3 linked regions of the Homo sapiens genome follow. The protein of the gene in region 2 purifies or fractionates together with the protein of the main gene of each other region. This does not show direct contact. Each region holds a gene or a part of one and is shown on either strand. Other genes may lie near its edges.

What was found. The genes of interacting proteins can lie anywhere in the genome.
Region 1: the proteins of ANAPC15 (region 2) and CDC27 purify together in Homo sapiens (affinity purification with mass spectrometry; 3 studies listed by BioGRID and IntAct, with this or other methods). This does not show direct contact.
Region 3: the proteins of ANAPC15 (region 2) and ANAPC2 purify together in Homo sapiens (affinity purification with mass spectrometry; 4 studies listed by BioGRID and IntAct, with this or other methods). This does not show direct contact.

What each region holds. Positions count from the first base shown.
Region 1 is NC_000017.11:47,179,294-47,186,320, reverse strand, and holds part of CDC27 (cell division cycle protein 27 homolog), read left to right. Parts: intron 1-4,683; coding exon 4,684-4,759; intron 4,760-7,027. UniProt on the Homo sapiens protein: Component of the anaphase promoting complex/cyclosome (APC/C), a cell cycle-regulated E3 ubiquitin ligase that controls progression through mitosis and the G1 phase of the cell cycle.
Region 2 is NC_000011.10:72,109,696-72,116,684, forward strand, and holds the start of ANAPC15 (anaphase-promoting complex subunit 15), read right to left. Parts: upstream 3,001-6,989; 5' UTR 2,955-3,000; intron 2,604-2,954; exon of another isoform or gene 2,544-2,603; intron 2,541-2,543; exon of another isoform or gene 2,229-2,540; intron 1,802-2,228; 5' UTR 1,717-1,801; intron 1,592-1,716; 5' UTR 1,582-1,591; coding exon 1,462-1,581; intron 1,088-1,461; exon of another isoform or gene 909-1,087; coding exon 849-908; exon of another isoform or gene 567-848; coding exon of another isoform or gene 531-566; coding exon 393-530; exon of another isoform or gene 246-392; coding exon of another isoform or gene 234-245; coding exon 186-233; 3' UTR 1-185. UniProt on the Homo sapiens protein: Component of the anaphase promoting complex/cyclosome (APC/C), a cell cycle-regulated E3 ubiquitin ligase that controls progression through mitosis and the G1 phase of the cell cycle.
Region 3 is NC_000009.12:137,178,559-137,185,585, forward strand, and holds part of ANAPC2 (anaphase-promoting complex subunit 2), read right to left. Parts: intron 6,530-7,027; coding exon 6,355-6,529; intron 5,234-6,354; coding exon 5,114-5,233; intron 4,685-5,113; coding exon 4,567-4,684; intron 3,305-4,566; coding exon 3,123-3,304; intron 2,372-3,122; coding exon 2,230-2,371; intron 1,970-2,229; coding exon 1,894-1,969; intron 1,827-1,893; coding exon 1,623-1,826; intron 1-1,622. UniProt on the Homo sapiens protein: Together with the RING-H2 protein ANAPC11, constitutes the catalytic component of the anaphase promoting complex/cyclosome (APC/C), a cell cycle-regulated E3 ubiquitin ligase that controls progression through mitosis and the G1 phase of the cell cycle.

The DNA.
Region 1 (7,027 bases), on a different chromosome or scaffold from region 2:
TGGGGATAAAATGTTCAGGGACAGCATCTAACATGGATTCAAAGAGTAACATATTTTGGCTACTCAATGAGAAATTTAGATTTAATGTGCATTGGTAATGAATAACCATTATATGAGCAGAAGAGTTTTTGAGCAGAGGAATTATGTAATAAAAGCACCACTTTGGGAATATTTATCTGGTGCTGTTGGAAAGGGAGGAAGAGACAAGAGTTAGACATACAGACTAGTAGAATAATCCAACTGCATGATCATGTAGACCAGGGCTGCTTAATCTGAGCACTATTGACATTTGGGGCAAGCTAATACTTTGTTGGAAGCTGTGCATTGTAGAATGTTTTGTAGCATCCCTGGCTTCTAACCACTGGATGACCCCTCCATTTGTGACAACCAAAAATACCCTCTAGACATTGCTAAATGTTGGGGCATTAATTGGGAGTAAGAAGGCAAAATTGCCCAGAGTAAGAACCACTGACGTGCATCTAAACTAAATCAGTATCCTAGAAATTCAATTATAATGTATAATATGAAATTTCAACAGTGATTTTTTTCTTTGTATCTTCTTACATTGTCTGAAGCCTTTATTATCCATTTATTTTATGGTTTTTAAAAAAGGGCAGCTGACTGGGCACAGTGGCTCACGCTTGTAATCCCAGCACTTTCAGAGGCTGAGGCAGACAGATCACTTGAGCCAAGGAGTTCAAGACCAACAAATAAAATAAAATAAAGACAGCTTTTTTGACAAAAACAAGAACACAAAATGTATAAAAAATTTAACAAAAACAAGTAAACAAATTTTTTGTAATAAGCTTTCTCTAACAAAAAATTTATAATGATTACAGGCCGGGCGCGGTGCCTCACGCCTGTAATCCCAGCACTTTGGGGGGCTGAGGCAGGCGGATCACGAGGTCAGGAGATCGAGACCATCCTGGCCAACAGGGTGAAACCATTCCTTCTCTACTAAAAATACAAAAAAAATTAGCCGGGCATGGTGGCAGGCACCTGTAGTCCCAGCTACTCAGGAGGCTGAGGCAGGAGAATGGCGTGAACCCAGGAGGTGGAGCTTGCAGTGAGCCGAGATCGCGCCACTGCACTCCAGCCTGGGTGACAGAGTGAGACTCTGTCTCAAAAAAAAAGAGAAAAATTTATAGTGATTACATTTAAGTCTAAGTACAACTTATAGAGGTTTGTTTATATTTTAAATAATATTTTATATTTAAGAATAGCTAGCTGGTAAGGAATTTTGCAACTTTAAGCTGTTGGTTTATTTATCTTTTAAATTAGTGCACCTGGGGACTAACCCATTAATCAGTCAGATTTCTCTTAAACATTTTTTAGGGGAGAGGGAGAGGAGCGTTGTTCTTTTTGGCTTCATAACTTTCTTTTAGCAGCATTTCGTTCATCTGGCTTTAATTTGTAGAACTCTAGCGGTAATGCACTGGGTGTTCTTTTAAGGGAAGGCCCACACCATCAGTTGGGCAGAGGTGCTGATTTTAGCCCTGTTCATCATCAGCTACTAATCTGTAGTGCCTTAGAGAATAATCTGTTCTTCCCCCCAATCCCGGCACAAGAGACACTGTTAGTCAGGAACTTAGAATTGATTGAGCAAAGCGGGATGGAAGCAGTATGTGAGATTCTCGAGATGGCAAGTTTTTTCTGATGCTCTTAAGAACTGGTGATAAGGGAATGATGTTCTGAGCAAAGCTTGATTTTAAGTCAGAAATGGATACAACTCTTGAATATGATACCTTTTTTCCTTCTTTTTTCCCCCCGCCCTTGCCTCTTATTTCTTTAATTTTAAAAGGACAGAAAAAATTTCAAAGCTCTAGGACTTTTTGACTTTAGTATATGTGTGTGAAATTTTCCTAGTGGTCCATAGTAGTAAAATAGCTGGTAAATCATTTGAGTCTTTTGTGGCTTATATATTGCAAAATAAGCAGTTGTAGCAGGTATGCTGGGGAGATGTTATGCAACAGAAACTACATATTTATTGAATTTCTTTATATTAAGAGATTGGCAAGGAAAAGGTTTTCCAAGTGCTTAATGTATGATAGTATACTAGGAGCATTATAAATGGATCATTTCATTTAATCCACAAAACAACTCCAATAAATAAACTCCATTTATCAGATGAAGAGATTGAGGCTGAGAAAAGTTGAGTATTTCCCACAAAGTCCCACTACTGGAAGTGCTGGCACACAAATTTGAGCACGTCTCCAAACATCAAATCTTTGGTATCTTCATTCTACTCACCATTTTCTTTCACTTACAGCAAAATTAAACATGTAGGTTCTTAGGAAATCCCAGATTTCATAAAGGAGTAATTTGGTGGTAATTATTTGCATAATAAAATAATTCTTCTATTTATCACAGAGTTTCTTTCAATAGAGACTCCCAGAGATTCTTTATTATTAGATATACATCTAGGAATACAAAGAAACTTAATGCTAAGACTAACGTACAAGAGTGTCAACAGTGGAAGACTGCTAGAAATTAAAGATCATTTGCTTATTCATTCAACATATAAGCACCTGCTTTAAAAGCACATAATGGATACTGGGAGTATAATAATGAGCAAAAACAGACGTAGCCCCTACCTTGTGGAGTTTGTAATATAGTAAGGAAAACATCACTCAAATACTCTCCTAAATTAATACAGAATTATAGCAGTGGGAAGTATTACAAAGGAAAGGTACTTGGTGCAATTAGAGTGTATAATAATGGTGCCTAATCTCATCTTTTTCCTTGTATCTAGATAGGAATGGTAAAATTAGACATCTTTGAGACTTTATAAAATTTAAGCTATATAAACAAAGGTTAAACAAGAGGCTCTGGAGATCCCAAACTAAGTTCATTACTGTTCTTTCTTGAGGAAATAGAAAGGGCTAAGTCATTTACTACTTTTATTTTTAAAATTATAATTAATATACTCATTGCAGAATTATTAAACATTTACTTGTTTGTTCAACAAAATTTGTTGAGCCTTTACTGTATCTAAGGCATATTAATCACTTAATATAATTTAGATGTACTGGTACAATGTTAGCTAGTGATCAGTAACCAGATTTTACTGGTTTCCGTTGTAACCTTTTTAAATCATTCAACAAATTATAAGCTGGTGTATGTGCTAAAAATAAAAAATAACGCTTGTATCATGATCAGGTGTGAGATATCTCAAAAGTAGTTTATTACTAAAAATGATTTGACATTACCTAGTAAAGATGAACATATGCATATTCAACAACCCAGTAATTTTATTCCTAAATATATATCCTAATTTGGAGAGATTCTTTTTTGTGTTTTTTTGATGGGAGTCTTGCTCCTATTGCACTCCAGCAGCTATTCACAGGTATGATCATAGCCTTGAACTCCTGGACTCAAGCAGTCTTCCCAGCTCAGCCTTCTGAGTCGCTGGGACTAAAGGCTCACACCACCGTGATAGGCTGGAGAGATTCTTAAATATATACCCCAGGAGATGAATCTAAGACTGTTGCAGCATTGTTATAATTGGAAAAACAAAACAAAACAAAAAAACACCCTAGAAATAACCCAAATGTCCACATGCTGTAAAATAGATAAAATACATTTTGGATTTTGATATGTTTATACAATGGAAATATTATTTATTCAGCAATGAAAACAAATGAACTCTAGCTACACACATCAAGAATGAATTTTCAAAACATTGGATTTCAAAAGCAAATCGTAGCAGAATGTATACAATATGATTGTATTTATTTAAAGTTCAAAAACAGGAAAAAGTAAATGTTATACTGCTTAGAGATGATATGTACAAATGTATAAAATTGTGAAGAAAACCAAGAGAAAGGTCAAGAAAATTCAGTGTGGTGGTTTCCTCTTTGGGGCAGGGAGAGGTTTTGGTATCAACAAGGAACACACAGGGAGTTTCAGAGATATTTTATTTCTTAAGCTGGGTGGTGAGTACATGGGCCTAAATGTCTTTGGTTATTGTTACTTAAAATGTCCTTCTATCTCATATATACTTTAGGTTATATGTTTTGTAATTCTAAAAGAGAAAACATATATTCAAAAAATTAAAAGTTATTCCTATGATAACTTTACTCATTTGCATTCCAATATGCTTCCTGGAGTGGATGAGAATTGAGTGGCATTAAAGGTAATAGATAGGGAAGTTTTTGTGGGAGGATGACATACATTTTAATATCTCTGTCATGTATATCACATAAAGTGGTTGAGAACCACTGCTGCTAAAAGTCTGTAGTTTAGTAGGGTTGGCAGTCCTGTTAACAAATAACCATGTTATGAGTGCTCTACTAGAAGAGGTATCTTAAAAAAGAAATGGCTTGACATCAGCCAGGAAAGCTTTATGGGGCAGATGTTATTTAAGCTGGATCTTTAGGGACGAGCAGTTTATAAGGGGAGACTGGTGAGGGGAGCCCACATTGCCCAATGGAGGAAAAGGGTGTACAAAGGCACAGAAGCCTAAAAGTCCATAGAGAGTTGAGTGAGGAAATTCAGATATGTTAGGAGCCATACTGTGAAGAGCCTTGCCCGGCACACTCTGGAGTTTGCTCTGTGGGCATTGGGGTTTTATCACTTAAATTAGGGATATTAATTTCAGTATTTGATGTAAGGCTGTGTGCTAGTAGTTACCTTGAAAGTCTGTATGTATGTATATTTATGTTCTTTTTCCTCCATTTGCAGGCTGCTATATGGCAAGCACTAAACCACTATGCTTACCGAGATGCGGTTTTCCTCGCAGAACGCCTTTATGCAGAAGGTTTGAAATCTATTCATTGCTGTAGAATGATAAATGAATAACATATATGAAATTCCATAACTTTTTATCACTGTAACAAGATTCTAGCTATCATCATCTTGTTGTTTTTCTGATTGACACTAGTTCATAAAATCTTTACTTTTTTTCTGTGTAGTTCCCTTACATACTACTTTTAATAACTATGTAGAATTGATTCAGGTTTATATGCTATGATTTACTTAATCATTTTTCAATCTTTAGGTTTTTTTTTCCCCCAGGGTTTTTGTTGTTTTGGGTTTTTTTTTTTTTTTTTTTTTTTTTTTTTTTTGAAACAGGGTCTCACTCTGTCACCCATGTTGGAGTACAGTGGGACCATCTCAGCTCACTGCAACCTCTACCTCCCAGGCTCAAGCGATCCTCCCACATCAGCCTCCCAAGTAGCTGGGACCGCAGGCACGGACCACCACGCCTGGCTAATTTTTTTTTTTTTTTTGGTAGAGATAGGGTTTTGCTATGTTGCCCAGGCTGGTCTCAAATTCCTGAGCTTAGGTGATCCACCTGCCTTGGCCTCCCAAAGTGCTGGGATTATACTCATGGGCCACCATGCCATGTATTTTTTTTTTTTTTTTTTTTTTTTAAGAAAAGAGTCTGTATTCTATGGTGAAGAACATGGATTTAGACTCTATAGCCTTGGAACAAATCCTAACCTGTCACTTAAATGTACAGTTTTATAACCTTGGACGAGTTACTTTAATATCTGAAAATTCAGATATTTCATCTATAAAATAATCATTGCCCCTTAGAATTAAAAATTCAATGAGATGGTTTATTTAAAGCCCTTAGCACAGCCATCTGGCTTGGTAATCAATGCTTAATAAACACCACTGATAATGTATGTTTTGTTTCTGTCATTATTATAATTCCCTTTCTAAGATGCTGATATAGATCATTGTGTACAGCTTTTTTTTTTTTTTGAGTCATTTCCTTGGGTTATGTACTTTTAAATGGAATTTACAAGTCAAACAGTATGGGTTTAGTAGCTGAGAGTTGTGAGAACAAGGCCTAAACCTCAGGGGCAGGAAATTTCACAAAAGGACAAAGAGCAATGCTTGGAAGTAGTTTTGAGAAGTTAAGTGGAAACCAGCCTTACCTTGACTCTGAGATAGTGGGATGTAAGGTGATTACTGTCCATGTGAGAGAGCTGTCTCCTCGGTGGAGAATGGGAATTCAGTGAGAAAAGTGAGGAAGATCTGGGCAGCAGGAGTTTAAGGTCCCAATGAAAAGATTAGAAAGGTGAGAAGGAATGGAAGGCTTAGAAAGAAGATTATACAATAGATTAATCTACTCCATTCACTTATGCAAAAGTGATGTTTATTGTGAATAATCTATTTAAAAATATTTTCATTGATACCTAGGCAGGCCCCATATTTTGCTGTATTTTTAAAAATTTTTGTTGAGTCAGAATCTCACTCTGTCGCCCAGGCTAGAGTACAGTGGCACAATCATAGCTCACTGCAGCCTTGAACTCCTGGACTGAAGTGATCCTCCTGCCTCAGCCTCCCAAAGAGCTGGAGTTACAGATGTGAGCCACTGTACTCGGCCACTGTCTTCTATTTCTAGTATTTCCTTTTTGTTTTTGTTTATTATTAAAGAATAGGCAGTTTCTAGTTTATTATAGTTAGGCTCTTAAAAATTGTAAATTCATGGTTTAGAATTCAATTAGATTTTCCCATAGAATTGGTGGCAAGATTCCCAGATTAGTCCACATAAAGCTGTTTAATCCACGTTATTTATGTACCTGATACAATGCTTGGCACTTGGAAAGTTGCTCAGTAAATGTTAGTTTCTTTCAATATAGAACCTCACCATTCGGTTTAACCATATTTATATGAGGAAAGATTTTAGAATTAAGTGTAGTAAGAGCAGATACTATCCTGGCTCAGTAATAATAACAATAATTCTATCACTTATTGATTTCTTACTGTATACTAGGTACTCTAAGTATTTAATATTAGTTACTAATTTAATCTTCAATAATCCTATCAAATAGACATTGCTATTGCCATTTTCTGGATGAAGAACTGAGACTAATGTCCACAGGCGGTAACTAGTAATCTGTCTGATTCCGCTTTCCCAAGAGTAGCAATTACCACTTCTCTGATTTGCAACCATAGTAGGCATCACTAATCCATTACAGTACTCATTCCCACTGAACCAACCTCAGAATTCTTGGCAACAGTTTTCTTGGTGGACAATATCAGTTGATATGCTAGATGTAACCTGTTTGCT
Region 2 (6,989 bases):
AAGTGCAGACTGATGGCCTGGGAGGGGCCAAAGAGACCAGATCCTGGCAGCAGCTGAGGAGGTGCCCAAGGGCACTTTCAGGCACTGGGGCCATCAGCTGGTTCTGTGGGCAGGGGTTGGGGGTTGGGATGCAGGGTAGTTTGGGCTGGCCTGGAATCTCCCTGAGGCCACCCTGCCTTGTCTACCTAGATCATCCACTGGTCCTGATCCTGTTCGTTGCCTTCCATGTCCACCTGGAGAGGAGGCTGGGTGTGGGTGGGGAGGGGCCTCAGCCAGCCTCAGCCCCAGATCCTGCCCCTGGCTGGATCCAGGGTTTCTGTACCCCTTGGCCATCAACTGGGTCAGGAGCAAGGGTCCAGGAACAGAGGCCCTCCCCCATACCCCTTGCCTACCTCATTGACCTCTCCATCATCCGGTGACTCATTGTAGTCATTCATCTCGTCCATGTCCTGCATATCCTCATCATCCTCTGAGTCCTCTTCACTATCCTCATCATCTTCATCATCCTCTTCTTCCTCGTCATCATAGTGCTGGTGGGCAGGACAGAGCCTGTAAGCCCTACAGGCCTGCATGGACCAGTTCAAGAACTGACCCACTTGAGCCTCTCTCTAGGGCCAATGAATGACCCCCTACCCCGACACTCCCTCCTTGAGTCTAGCAGGCTGGTGCATGTTCTGCAGGACCTTAATGCTAGGCCCAATGCCCACCCCTTCTATCTCCCCTTTTAGGCTTTTACCCAGATCTGAGAACCACAACTGCTCTGGGTCAGAGACAGGACATTCAGAATTAGAGCAGAGCCTCGGTCCACTGCGGCCCCCACACAGGCCCCACCTGCTAGAGCCACTCACCTCTGAGGCTGGCTTGCCAATAGGAACCAGGTTGTTGTCTTTCTCCGCGATGCTTTGGAGCTGTGGGCAAAGGCACAGAGGAACAAGGCCAGAGCCCAAGTAGGGCAGGTCAGGGGCATGGGACTGGCCCATTCTGCCCAGAAGACAACCCACACGTGTTGGGGAGAAGCTTCCTCCCAGTTCTCAGGGAGATACAATCCCTTTCTTGTCATCTGCCATTTATGAACTTGATCCAAATACTTAAACTCTCTGAGCCTTCTTTTTTTTGTATAATTATGGTGAGGATGAAGTGAGAGACTTATCAGCCTAGAAAGCATCATCTGCTAGATCCTCAATTAATAGTCAAAATTATTTCCTGTGCTTTAGGGAAAAGAGCTTGGGCTGAGTGTCAGCAGCCTGGGCTCTAATCTGGCCCAGAAGTCACATGGTACCCCTGTAAAATAGGGTACCACAAGATGAGAACCTTGGCTCCCTGGCTCCCAGCCCGATTATTCCCAGCTCAGGGCAAAAAGCTCTTCCTGGGTAGATTTCTGGAGTAAGGCTGGGTCATGGCCCACTGAAGGAGGTCTCTGTCTGTGCTGAGGTCTCTGTGCTGTGCTAGCTGCTCACTCACCCAGGCCTGATGCTGCTGTTCCTGCTGCTGCAGCTCTGTCTCTTCCACACAGGGTCGATCCAGATTAAACCACAGAGTCTCAGTCACACGAGGGAAGAGTGAGGGGAACAAAGTGGACATGGCTCCTAGACTGAGGGAAAGGGTCAAGTGAATGTGTTTTGCTTTGTTTTTGTTTTTAATTTGGTTGTAATTTGATTTAGGGATAGGGTGGAAGACAGCAGGAAAGCAGCCCCTCCCCCTAGGAATCAGACAGACCTGGCTTTGAGTCCTGGCTCCACCACTTACTAGCTGTTTGACCTTGGCTGAGTCACTTAACCTCTCTGAGCCTCAGTGTCTTCATCTGTAAAATGGGGATAATAACAATTATACCACTGTCAAAGTTATTCTGATAATTAAGTAAATAATGGATCAACAAAGCTGTTTGCAGGCTGTTCAAGGAGGGATGAGAATGGGAGTCAAGTGTAGGGATAGGAATCCAGAATGCAGACTGGCATTATGAAATTATACAAAATTAGAGGTAGCAGGGTTCTACTGAAACTATCCCTACCTCCTCCACACACTAAAACCTGCTTTTTGACCCTTTATGATGGCCCATACCACACCCACCCAGTGTCAGAAATTTAGGACACTAACGACCTCTCATGAATCACAGCCAAATGTCGGGGTGGAGGGATTGTAGCATATGCAAGCAGGGTTCAGTAAGACATTCTAGGAGGCATGAATAAGTGGATAAATAAGTAGATGGAAGATTGAATGGATGAACTAACATTATAAGGGTACAATCAGCTTTGAGCGGCTGAGGGAGCCGACCAGGAGTGCCAGATAATCTGAATTAAACTTAGGACAGGCGAACTGAGGCCCAGCGACAGGCAGAGACTGGCTTTAGGTCATACAGTGTGTCGGGGCTTAGAATTCCTCCGTGAAAGGGATGAGCAGGAGAAAATAATCGATGCCTGGTCCTGCTTTTGTCTTAATTTATCTGACCGACCCAGGGCCAGCCGCTGCCCTTCCCTGTATCTCAGATTCCCAACCCGCGTAATTAGGCACGACGGTAAACACCCTCATGTCCAAGAAGTACTGACAGACCAGCGATCTCGGCTCCGAAAGCCCAACCCACCGTCGCAAAGCCACCGCCCTTTCTTTGCTCATTACGATAATGACCATGCAGTTGACCAACAGAAAGAAAGCAGGGCGGGTCTCAGACAGAAATTTGGCCTTATAGGGTTGCTAAACGCGAAAAAAGCGGGGCCTGGGTAGGACCAATTAACTGAAAGAAATGCTGGGTGACAGGAAGTGACACCAATGAATGACGGACCTTGTGTGACGGGGTGGGGCTTAGTCTCGAGGAAGCGGCCAATGAGCTGGAGCTCTTTAAGGGTTAAGGACTCTCAATATGGAGCTCCTGGGGAGTCGGGTCAAAGGAAATGGGTTTCTCTGGGGGAAAAAGGAATGAAGGGGCAAGGAGACGGTTGCAGCCTTGCGTCTGTACTTACCGCGCCGGGAGGCTGCTGCCGGCGGCGACCCGGAAGCGCTTCACCCAGCCTGAGCGGAAGAACCCACCAGAATCCGGGACTCACCAAACGCATGCGTCCTTCGTCTCCTTTTGTTTTCCCCGCTCCCGCCCACTAAACCGGATGTGACGTTGACCTACCTTAGTCACATTGTTAGGGAAGGAAGTGTGCCGCGCCTACCTATCTGCCCCGCCTTGAGTCTCAGCCAGTCGGCGTCTCCATCCTGGCGCCAGCACTACGGTCTCGTTTAACCACTGCCCCGTTTAACCCCTGCCCTTTTGTTGCCAGTCACCATTTGCTTGTTAACCCCTTCTGAAGAAGAGCTGACAGCAACCTTTTAGTGCGAGGGCCATTCGTCCTGCTGCATCCCAGAAAACTAATCTGTTACTACTTCAGAATTGCTGGTTGATGTTAGGCCCCTCCTATCTGTGCTCTCTCAGCTACAGTTTCCCGTTTGAGCATATTCATTCTTTTTTATTTTTGCTCTGAACAAAAATATTAGAGTTACAATATTACTATATTCCAGGCCTTGCTAGAAACTGGGGATAAATCTAGGAATATGGTCGCTTCCCTGGAAGACCTCACAGTCCAGGGAAGCCAAACCCTGCAGACATGCAGTAGACTTAGTGGTCTCTCTTAAGGTTGCTTGTTGAGTTTTGACATTGGAGATTATGTACAGACTTGAATGACTAGTTAGCCTCAGGCACAGCATTCTGTTGCTGGGGGAATCAGCTGCCCTCCTCAGGCCTGGGCCAAGTACACTTAGAGATCGCCCTCGTCACCTCTCCCATCCTTTGCTGATGCCTCTGTTCTAGTAACCTCTGACTCAGCTTCGCCTTTAGAGATACTCATGCTTTCTGGCAACAGAGGTCCTTCAAACCCAATTCCTATTAAACTCCATCACTTACCAGCCTCTTTCAGGGACAGCAGTTATCCGCATTTCCAGTACTGTCCTGGCCAGATGTGTGAGTTTTGGCAATTCCTTTTCCTCTCTCTGGACTCAGCTTCTTTGTCAACCAGCATCATAATCTCTGCCCAGCCTTCCTTCTATCCTGGGCTGATGTGAAGATTGGATAAGAATTGTTCAAGAGGTCGTGTACTGTGCATATTGAATGTGATTATATTGCCAAATAGCACTGTTTGTTATAGTTTTTCATTAAAGAGTAAACTTTGCCTCTTGGAAATGACTACCTTTTTCATTCATTCAACAAATACCTACTGAGTGCCTTAGTATATGTCCATCACTATTCTTAGTAGTGGGTATACAATAGTAAACAAAACAGACCAAAAAAGTCCCTCTTTTCATGCAGCCTTCATTCTGAGAGAGGTAAACAATAAAGAAGATAGATAAATAAAATATGTAGTTGTAAGATTGCAGTAAATAAGAGAAAAAATAAATCTGAGAAGTGGGAATAAAATATTTGCAGGGGAGGTGTTTTATTTCAGACTGGGGGGCCAAAGTCACTGGGAAGGTGACTTTTGAGTAAAGGTCTGAAGGAGCAGAGAGCCTTCTGATATTTGTGGAAGAGCATTTCAGAGAGAGAGAATACAAGTGCAGAGGGCCTAGAATGGCTTGGGCATAGTGTCCTCTAGGGAGAGTAATAGGTAGGAGATGAGGAGTTGGGGAGCCAGTGGAGGGTTGTGAGCACAGGGTCCACACAATCTGATTTACAGTTTAACTGAGTTACTCTGGCTGTTCTCCAAATAGACTGGGGTAGGGGAGACAATGGCAGAAGCAGGGAGACCATTTGGGAGCCTATTATGATAATCTAGAGGTAGTGGATGAGAAGTGGTTGAATTCTGAATTTATTTAGATGGTAGAGACTACAAGGTTTGCTAACAGATGGACAATGCCAGAATAAGAAAGGAGCCACGATTTTTGGGCTGAACGACTAGAAGATTGGTGTTGCCACTTTTTTGAGTTGGGAAGGAATGGGGAGGTGATGAGGGGTTTGGTTTTTTTTTGACAGGGAGCTTAGGTTTGAGTGTGTTGAGTCTGAGATGCCCATTAGAGTAGAGATGTTGGGGCGGCAGGAAGGCATATGAGTCTGCAGGTCAGGGCAGAGATCTGGGCTGGATAGATCATTTGGGAGTCATTGGCATGTAGATGGTGTTTAAAGTCATGAGACTGGATGAGATCACCAAGGGAGTGAATGTAGTTGGAAAATAGTTTCCTCCAATATTCAGAATTTGAGGAAACTAGGAAAAGCAGCAAACCAGATGGAGAAGGAAGGCCAAAAAGATAAGTAGAAAGCTGGGTGAGTTGATGGTATCTTGGAAGCCATGTAAAGAAAGGGTGGTAGGAGAAAATGGTTTACTGCAGCCTCATTCTGTACAAAATTGTGCTTTTGTTTATTTCCCCAACAGACCATGAGCTCCTTGAGGGCAGGGACTGAATGGTTACTATGTCCCCAGGGCCCAGCATGACCTTCTCCTGGATTCCTCATCTTCCTTCTGTGACCTGTGTCTCCATCAGTTTCTCCTCCGGCATCTTTTTCTTACAGGATTCTTACCTCAGGTACCATTTGCCCCGTCCTTCCTGATAATTCCGCCTGCTGGAAATTCCCTAGTAACAGAGTTTCTTTTCAGGGTCATCAGCCAGGCTCAGTAAGTAATGATGACTGGTTAGCTGGTGACATTTATTGAGTACCAACTGAGTGCCAGACACCTTTCTAGGCCCTGGGGACAGAGGGGAAGCAGAAATAATTCCTGCCCTAGAGAAAAATAGAGTATAGTGAGTACTAAGACAATTATAGACAATTATAGAGGAGGGTAATAAATGTTAAAATCAATGTATGTAGAGAATACATGAGAACACAGAGGAGGGATTGATGAATGGGTTCTGAACAAACTAAGTTTAGACTTTTGTTCCAGAAAAGGAAACATTTGAGTGGGCCTTGAGGGATGAGTAGGAGTTAAGCCCACTGGTAAATAAGTAGGAAAAGAGGGTGCACAAAGAGGCATATTTCATTCAAGGGCATGTTTGGAGAACATTGAGAATCTGGGCAGAACTAGATATGTGGAGTGGAGAAAGATGAGAAAGAATGATAGGGGACCCAGATAGGGAAGGTCTTTGGTGGCCCTATATGGAGTGGATGGGATGGGATCTGGGCATCTTGGGTCTCACCTTTGTCTTATTGCCGACTTGCTGGGGACCCCAGGTAGATGTCTCCCCATTCACAAGCTTCCGTGTTCTCTAACATAATATCTAACCATGTCGCCAGCTCTGATGTGAGTCCCTGGAAGGGATTCCCCTAGCTTGATCCTTTCCATTCTTAGATTTTTACATTTGCCTTATTTGTGATTTATACAAACCAGGGCCTAGGAATGGAAAGCAGGGTCAGGATGGAGATTTCTCAACAGAAATCAATAAATCCAGAGCCCAGAGGCTGAAGATGGAAACCATGATTCTATGCAGAGAATTCTCTAGGATCCAGGAAGGGCCAGAGTTGAGTGGTGTGAATTCAGTGCTAGTGAAAGCTGCTTACTCATTCCTTCCATAAACCTTGAGGAGCATGGCTGACCCTGGTAGGGGACAGGGGAGAATGTAACAGTCACAGTCACTACCTTTCATACATATGGAGGGATAGTTGGTCTCCAGAGAGTTTTCCCACTCATAGTCTCCACTTATCCTTAGCCCAGCCCTGGGGATTCTGCCTTCATTTAGCAGATGAGGAACCTGAGGCTCAGGAAAGTAAAGCGGCTTGTCTGAGTTGAAGCTACAACTCAAGAATGTCAAAATCTTGCATTGTTCCACAAATCTTCCTTATGGGCTGATATGTGCTTGCCGATGGGGACTCACAGAGGAATTCGATTTGAGTCCTAGTCCTCTGCAACTACCCAGTATGGTGTGGATACCAGACTAACGCAAGTCATTAGGCCCTTGAGGCCAGATCTCTGTGTGATTCATCTGTATTTCCCCGGCACCTTGCACAGTGTCTAGCACAGAGTAGCCACTCAACAAATGTTTATATAAGATGGGTTTTTTTCCTTGGGTCTAATGGAATTATAGTTCAC
Region 3 (7,027 bases), on a different chromosome or scaffold from region 2:
CCGAGCACGGAGCCGGGCCACACGGATGATTTGTACCAGAACACAGCGGGGCACGGTGCCCGCAGGCTCCAGAGACACCAGGCTGTATCACAGGCCAGAGCTCGAGGTGTGGGGATGGCCAGGGTGCTCCTTTCCACCGAGAGCAGGTGCAAGCCACACAGACCCTCCACAAGCTGCAAGGGACACCTGGACTCTTCCAGAGCCAAGCTGAGGCCTGGAGGGAGGCAGCAGGCATTCGCCACCATGGTCAGCAGCCCGGCCCTACCACAGCCCCTTGGCCTCCTGCCCTGGGGGCCTCCGCCTGGCCCTCCCCTTGTCTGTCTCCGGAAGGAAGCTTCCCCCTTGGTTTCTAAAGTGGACACATCGCCCTGCCCTCCCCTAGGAGTAAGTTCCCTTGGTTTGTCAACACAGCAAGGCCCTCTTACTTGCAAAAGAAAAAGGAAAACACATCTAGGTCCAGCCTCCTTCACAGCAGACCTGGAGAAGCTGTGGACCCTCCCTTGAACTCAGCCCCGCCCGCCCGCCGGCCTCCTGGCGGCTCTGTCCTGAGGCTGCTCCTCCTGCCTGGGCCGAGGCTGGACCATCCCCTTCCTGGGGTACCTGGGGTTGGGGTCTGCAGACTGGATGCTGGCTGTGCCCCAGAACCCTCTCCTCACATGTCCCCCGCTGGGGTGCCCGCCTCCCCCCAGTCCTGAGCACTCGCTGGGCACACTGGAGGCCTCACAGGCCCCACACATCAGACAGAAAGCCCTGGAACCCGCCTGTGACGACCATCCCGACCCCTTCCTCCCCGAGCCGACACCTCCCACCTGTGACGACCATCCTAACCCTTCCTCCCCGAGCTGACACCTCCCACCTGACTATGAGCTCAGGGAAAGAACCGCCAAGCCTAGTTCCATCCCTCAGGCTCTGGACGCCTGTACTGGGACTGCTGGGATCTCAGCAGTGCTGCCAGGGGAAGTGAGCCAAACGTGGCCAATACCATCCTCTGGGCACACTGTCCCCATCTGCCAGTGACCTCCAGGCCAGGGCTCACTCCTCCACTCCCCACATCTGCTCCCCTCCTACTCCCACCACAGACCCATAGCCCCGGTCCTCAAGTACCACTGGAGCCTGCAAAGGCAGTTCTCGAGGAAACAGACCTGGAGAAGGGGGCAGGGCTGGGGTCCTGGGGGTCAGGTGCGCCTGGGAGTGCTGCCCTGGGCAGAGGGCAGCCCTGGCTCCCTAGCTGCCTCCCTGCAGTGACGCAAGGCACCCCAAGCCCCGGTTCTGAGAGGCAGAGGGTGGATAGCAAAAGAGGAGGAAACGCTCAGAGGGCAGGGCCTGCTGTGGCCACAGGGGTCCCCCTGAAGCAGTTCAGGAGACCTGGGCCCAGCACAGCCCACCCAAGCGCCTGTGGGCCGCGCGGACGCTCGCTCACAGGGGACACGGGGTTGCTGGGAGGAAGGCGGAGAGAGCGTGGGCCAGGCCCACTCCCTCTCCTGCAGAGGCGGCTGCGAGACAGGACCAACCCAGAGACACTCGGGTGACAACGGGGCAGCCACAGGCACCAGGCTGCTGGGAGCCCCGCAGTGCAGGGTAGGGGTGCCAAGAGCCCATGGGGTGGCCTGGCATGGAGGTACCTTGAGCTGCTCATACTTCTTGCAGTAAGCCTCCAGGGCTGCCCTGATATCCTCGGGGACCTCCAGCTTCTCGTCCTTGAAGGGCGGCCAGAACTCACTGGACAGGATGACAGCGTAGACCCCGAACGGTGGCTGCTCCTCTGCTGGCCGCTTCTCATCCTCCTCCCGGATGTTGGCATTGATGCGGCGGGAGTCCGCCATGTCCTGAGGAGGAGCCGGTGTCACGGGGGACCTGCGGGGCGGCCGGGCAGCGGGCGGGGCTGGGACCCACCTTCAGCATGACTTCACAGAAGTGCATTGGGGCCTCGCCAAAGCGCAGCTTCAGCAGCTCCACGTTGCGGATCTCCCTGGAAAGACGAGTGTCTGGGCAGGGGGTCGTGATGAGCCCCAGCCCCAAGGAGCACCTGTGGCAGGGCACGGGGGTGCCCCCCAGGCAGAGCAGGGAGCCTGTGTGGGCACCCCAATGGCTAGCACACCCCCAGCCAGGAGTGGGGGCGGAAGCACAGCTCCAACCAGGCCCCAGGCACGGCGTCAGGGCCCTGTCCCGAGAGAGGCTGGGCAAAGGCCCCGGCACCCCTGGAGATGGCCAGCGCGTCACAGGCCTCACCGCTCGGGGCTGAAGCTGAACTGGTGCAGCAGGCGGTCGGCCAGCAGCGAGCGGTACTCATTGATGAAGAGGTCCTTGCTGCCGTAGATGCTGACCAGCAGGCTGATGATGTCCGATGAACGCCGCTTGGAGCTCGACTTCCCTGGCATGGTGGGGGCAGGGGTGTCACCTGACAGGCACCTGGGCAAGGACAGGGCCGCCCTCCTCCCATCCCGCCCAGCCAGACGGCACAGCCCAGCATGGCTCTTCCTGAAGGCCCTCGAGGCTGGGAGCAGCCCTGAGCCTCCCGGGAGACCTGGAGTCAGGTCCTGGAGCAACAGCTTCAATCCCCAGCCCCTCTCACCCCACAGGGACCTTCCGGGACTCCCATGCAGGCTTAGGGGACAAGCCAAAGGTCCTGGGGTTTTCCTCTGAGAGAGACTAAAGATGTGTTGAAGACTTACCATCTGTGCCAGGGCAGGGGCCAGGCCTGGGCCCCATAGCCCTCAGAGCCCTCGCAGACGAGGGCCAGGCACAGATGGGCTCTGAGCAGGAGCTGGCACCCTAACGGGACTTTGAGGCCCAAATCAGTACAGAGCTCAGGGGTCACCCACATCTTCACTCCTCTGCCAGGTGCAGTGGCGGGGCAGGGACACCCCACAGCTCACAAGCGGTGGGAGGCAGGGCATCCCCCACGGCCAGAGTGACCAGCCACAGAGGAAAACAGCCCATCACCGGCCTGCCCAGGCTGGCAGGTGGCGGAGCACTGCCCTGACCTTTGACACCCTCAAGCCTCTGAGACACTAGCGACACCTGACACAGCCAAGCTCTGTGACAAGGGATGAGTCCAGAGCGGACGGCCTGGCTGAAGCGCCCCCCACACTGGTGAAAGGGACCATGTGGGGCAAGCTAACCTGGATCGGCATCCACAGGGTCCGGGACCCAGTCCTCTGGCTCGCCTGAGTCATCCTCACTGTCCTGGCCTGTCTCCAGGCTCGCCGGGTCGGTCTTGGACAGCTCAACAGCCAGGTCCCCTGTCCCGTCCGAGTCCCCCGTCAGCCCAGCCACAATCTGCCGCACTGTGTCCTCCCGCGTCCTGCCGATGTGAGTGCTGCTGTGGCCCACAGTGTGGACACCCCGCGCGCACCTCCCACCACTCATTCCAGTCCCGGCCCCATCTAGGCCAGCACCACCGACCCTGCCTCTACACTCAGTGGTGATGGGCTATGTACTAAACACAGGCCCGTCAGACTCCTTAAAAACAAATAAACCCAACGTTACTTGGGAGCAGCAGGAGCTGCGAGCGCAAGGCCGGCCTGCGCACCTGCAATCCCAGCACATAGGGACACTAAGCCAGAAGACCTAAGCCCAGGTGTCCGAGGCTGCAGGGAGACAGGATTCTGCCACTGCACTCCAACAGAGCGAGAGCCTGCCTCAAAAAAAAGAAAAAGAAAAAGAAAAAAGGGCCGGGCACGGTGGCTCACGCCTGTAATCCCAGCACTTCAGGAGGCCGAGGCAGGCGGATCACGAGGTCAGGAGATCAAGACTATCCTGGCTAACATGGTGAAACCCCATCTCTATTAAAAATACAAAAAGTTAGCCAGGCTTGGTGGCGGCCTGTAGTCTCAGTTACTCGGGAGGCTGAGGCAGGAGAATGGCGTGAACCCGGGAGGCGGAGCTTGCAGTGAGCAGAGATCGTGCCACTGCACTCCAGCCTGGGCGAAAGAGTGAGACTCCATCTCAAAAAAAAAAGAAAAAACAAAGAACTGGCTCAGAAGCCAGGCCAGTTACAGCCACAAAGCACCAAAGGAGTCCAGGTAGGGGCCAGACTCCACCGGCTCCTGCTGCTCGGCTCCTGGGGGCCACTGTGCCTGCCAGCCCCGGGCCAGGGCCTCTGCGACCCCTGAGGAATTCCCAGGCAGCCATGTCAAGGTCCTCATCCCAACACATTCTCCACCGAACAGCCCCAGGAGTGTCTGTTCCTTGCCGTGGGAAAGGCCAGGACAGCAGAGCCCACTCCCCTTGCCTGGTCGGCCTTGGGGACTGGTCAGCACCAAGGCGAGGCCAAGTGGAAGAGCTTCTCTCTGTGCTGGAGATGGGGAGGCTGAGGAAGGGCTGTGGTGGGCCTCTGGCAGCTGCACACAGAGGGCACGGTGACACCGTGTGACAAGGACAGGTGCCCGGCACGGGCAAGAGGAAAGGAAAGAGCCTCGGGCCTGATCCCGTGCACTCAGCCCAGCCGGGGGAGACCTTGTGTCCTGACGGCCGAACACACCCTCCGGCTGCCCCCCAGGACCACGAGGAGCTCAGCAGGATGCCCAGGGTCCCAGTGGCTCCTGGGCCAGCTGCAGCCCTCACCTCAGGTAGCGGCGGATAGGCTCACAGGCCACCTCCAGGATGACCATGGAAGGGTCCAGCACGCGCAGCGCCTTGATGGCAGAGATATAGAGGGTGATGATGTCACACGTGTTGACGCCTACAGCCAGGGCAGAAGCCAGCAGTCATGCAGTGCCCGGGACCACAGCCTCCCAGGGGCAACACCCGAGTAGACAGCTGGCCATGCCGGTAGGTGGTCTACAGGTCCCCACTGCAGCCTCGTTCCCTTGTCCCCCCATCCCCACCTCTACCTGTTCACAGGTCCCGCCCTGCAGGGAGGTCTGTTCTGAGAGAACTAAGTCTCATCACCTCAGACCTACCGGTCAGTCCTGACTCCCTCCAAAGAAGAAACAAGCAAGCTGACGGGCACCTCAGATCCCCTAAGGACCTCACCAATTGCTTCTCAACCCATTTCTTCCTTAGACCTACAAGTCCAGGGCTGGCAGACTAGGCCCCAGGCTCCCTGGACATGGGTCCCCTGGTGAGTGTCTAAGCCCAGAGTGCTGGGTGGCCGGGCAGCACACAGCACCTGGATGCAGGAGCCGAGTCTCCAGGGCAGCCTTGAGGGACACGAGCAGCTGCTGCCTCTGGTCCGTCCTCTCCAGGCAGTACTTGAGGTCCTCGATGGCTGGCCGGGAGTCTGGGAAGTCTACAAGAAGAAGAACATCCCTCAGGGACAGACATGGATGCGTGCGCACGTGCAGGCTGGTGCAGAGTGTGTGCGGTGTGGGAAAGGACACGTGCTTGCCAGCCCCAGGACGATGATGAGACCACCTGCTAGGCACCAGACATCCCCCCGACACTCTGGCGTGCTGATGCATTTGACCACAATGCCACAGGGTGGACAGAGCAACACCCAGGGGCCAGTCCCCAGCAGGAGCCAAGGCCAAGGCAGCACAGCAGTGGACACCCAGAAGCACTGTCCAGCATCTGCCACACCTGCCCTGATCCAGGCACGGGGGACGCCGCAGTGGGGACAGTCCCAGCACTGCCCGGTGCACCCCCCTGCAAGAGCGACAGCGAAGGCACAGGGAGCCCCAGACGTGGACACAGGGAGCCCAGATGCAGACACAGAGCCGACATGGCGAAGGCCCTGGGAGCCCCAGATGCAGACACAGAGCAGACACGGCGAAGGCACAGGGAGCCCAGACGCAGACACAAGGAGCCCAGACACAGACACAGAGCAGACACGACGAAGGCCCTGGGAGCCCCAGATGCAGACAAAGAGCAGACACGGTGAAGGCACGGGGAGCCCAGACGCAGACACAGGGAGCCCAGACGCAGACACAGAGCAGACACGGTGAAGGCACAGGGAGCCCAAGACGCAGACACAGAGCAGACACGGCGAAGGCACAGGGAGCCCAGATGCAGACACAGAGCAGACACAGCGAAGGCCCTGGGAGCCCCAGACGCAGACACAGGGAGCCCAGACGCAGACAGAGCAGACACGGCGAAGGCCCTGGGAGCCCCAGACGCAGACAGAGCAGACACGGTGAAGGCACAGGGAGCCCAGACGCAGACACAGGGAGCCCAGACGCAGACACAGAGCAGACACGGCGAAGGCACAGGGAGCCCAAGACGCAGACACAGGGAGCCCAGACGCAGACACAGAGCAGACACGGCAAAGGCCCTGGGAGCCCCAGACGCAGACACAGAGCAGACACGGTGAAGGCACAGGGAGCCCAGATGCAGACACAGAGGAGACACGGGGAAGGCCCTGGGAAGACTCCCCAGACGGGAGAGCGGACCCCAGGGCCGGGGCAGGACCACCTCGGACGATGCTGAAGAGCTCCTCGATGCGCAGGCTGGCGTAGATGCGGTAGAAGAACCTTTGCACGTGGCAGCGCCAGCGGCGCAGGGTGTTGCCGGCCTCGGGAGATGCGGGCCTGGCGGGGCCGTCCTGCAGGAACACCTTGCCGAGCCAGCCGACCACCCGCTCGATCCACTGTCAGGAGAACGCTAGTGTGAGCTGCAGGGAGGCATGGTGAGCCCCGGGCTGACTCAGAGGCTGGGAGGAGCCTCACGGCCACCCACCCTGTCGGCCGGGACCGAGGGGAGCCCGAAGGCCACCTGCGTCTGGAGGCTGGAGCACATCAAAACCTGCAGGGTGGGTGATGGCCCAAAAGGCGACGTCCCGGCCCCCCTGCAGTCTTCGTGCCTCTCACACGCGCCAGTGCCCACACTTATCACTGGCAGCAGCAACCCTAGCGTGAGACATGACAGACACACACGACCTGTGCGCTGTGCCTGGTGGGCACACTTGCCCCCACTTAAATGGATAAACACGCCCTTGAGACCAGCCGGGGGGCCCAGGCGAGCACAAACCTCTAGGTGGCAATTCCGCCGCGGGGCCCAGGCGTGCTCATGCCCCACAGACCTGCTACCCAGTGGCAAGACCGCACGGATGTTCACCCTCTCCACCCTACTACCCACTCTTGCCCAC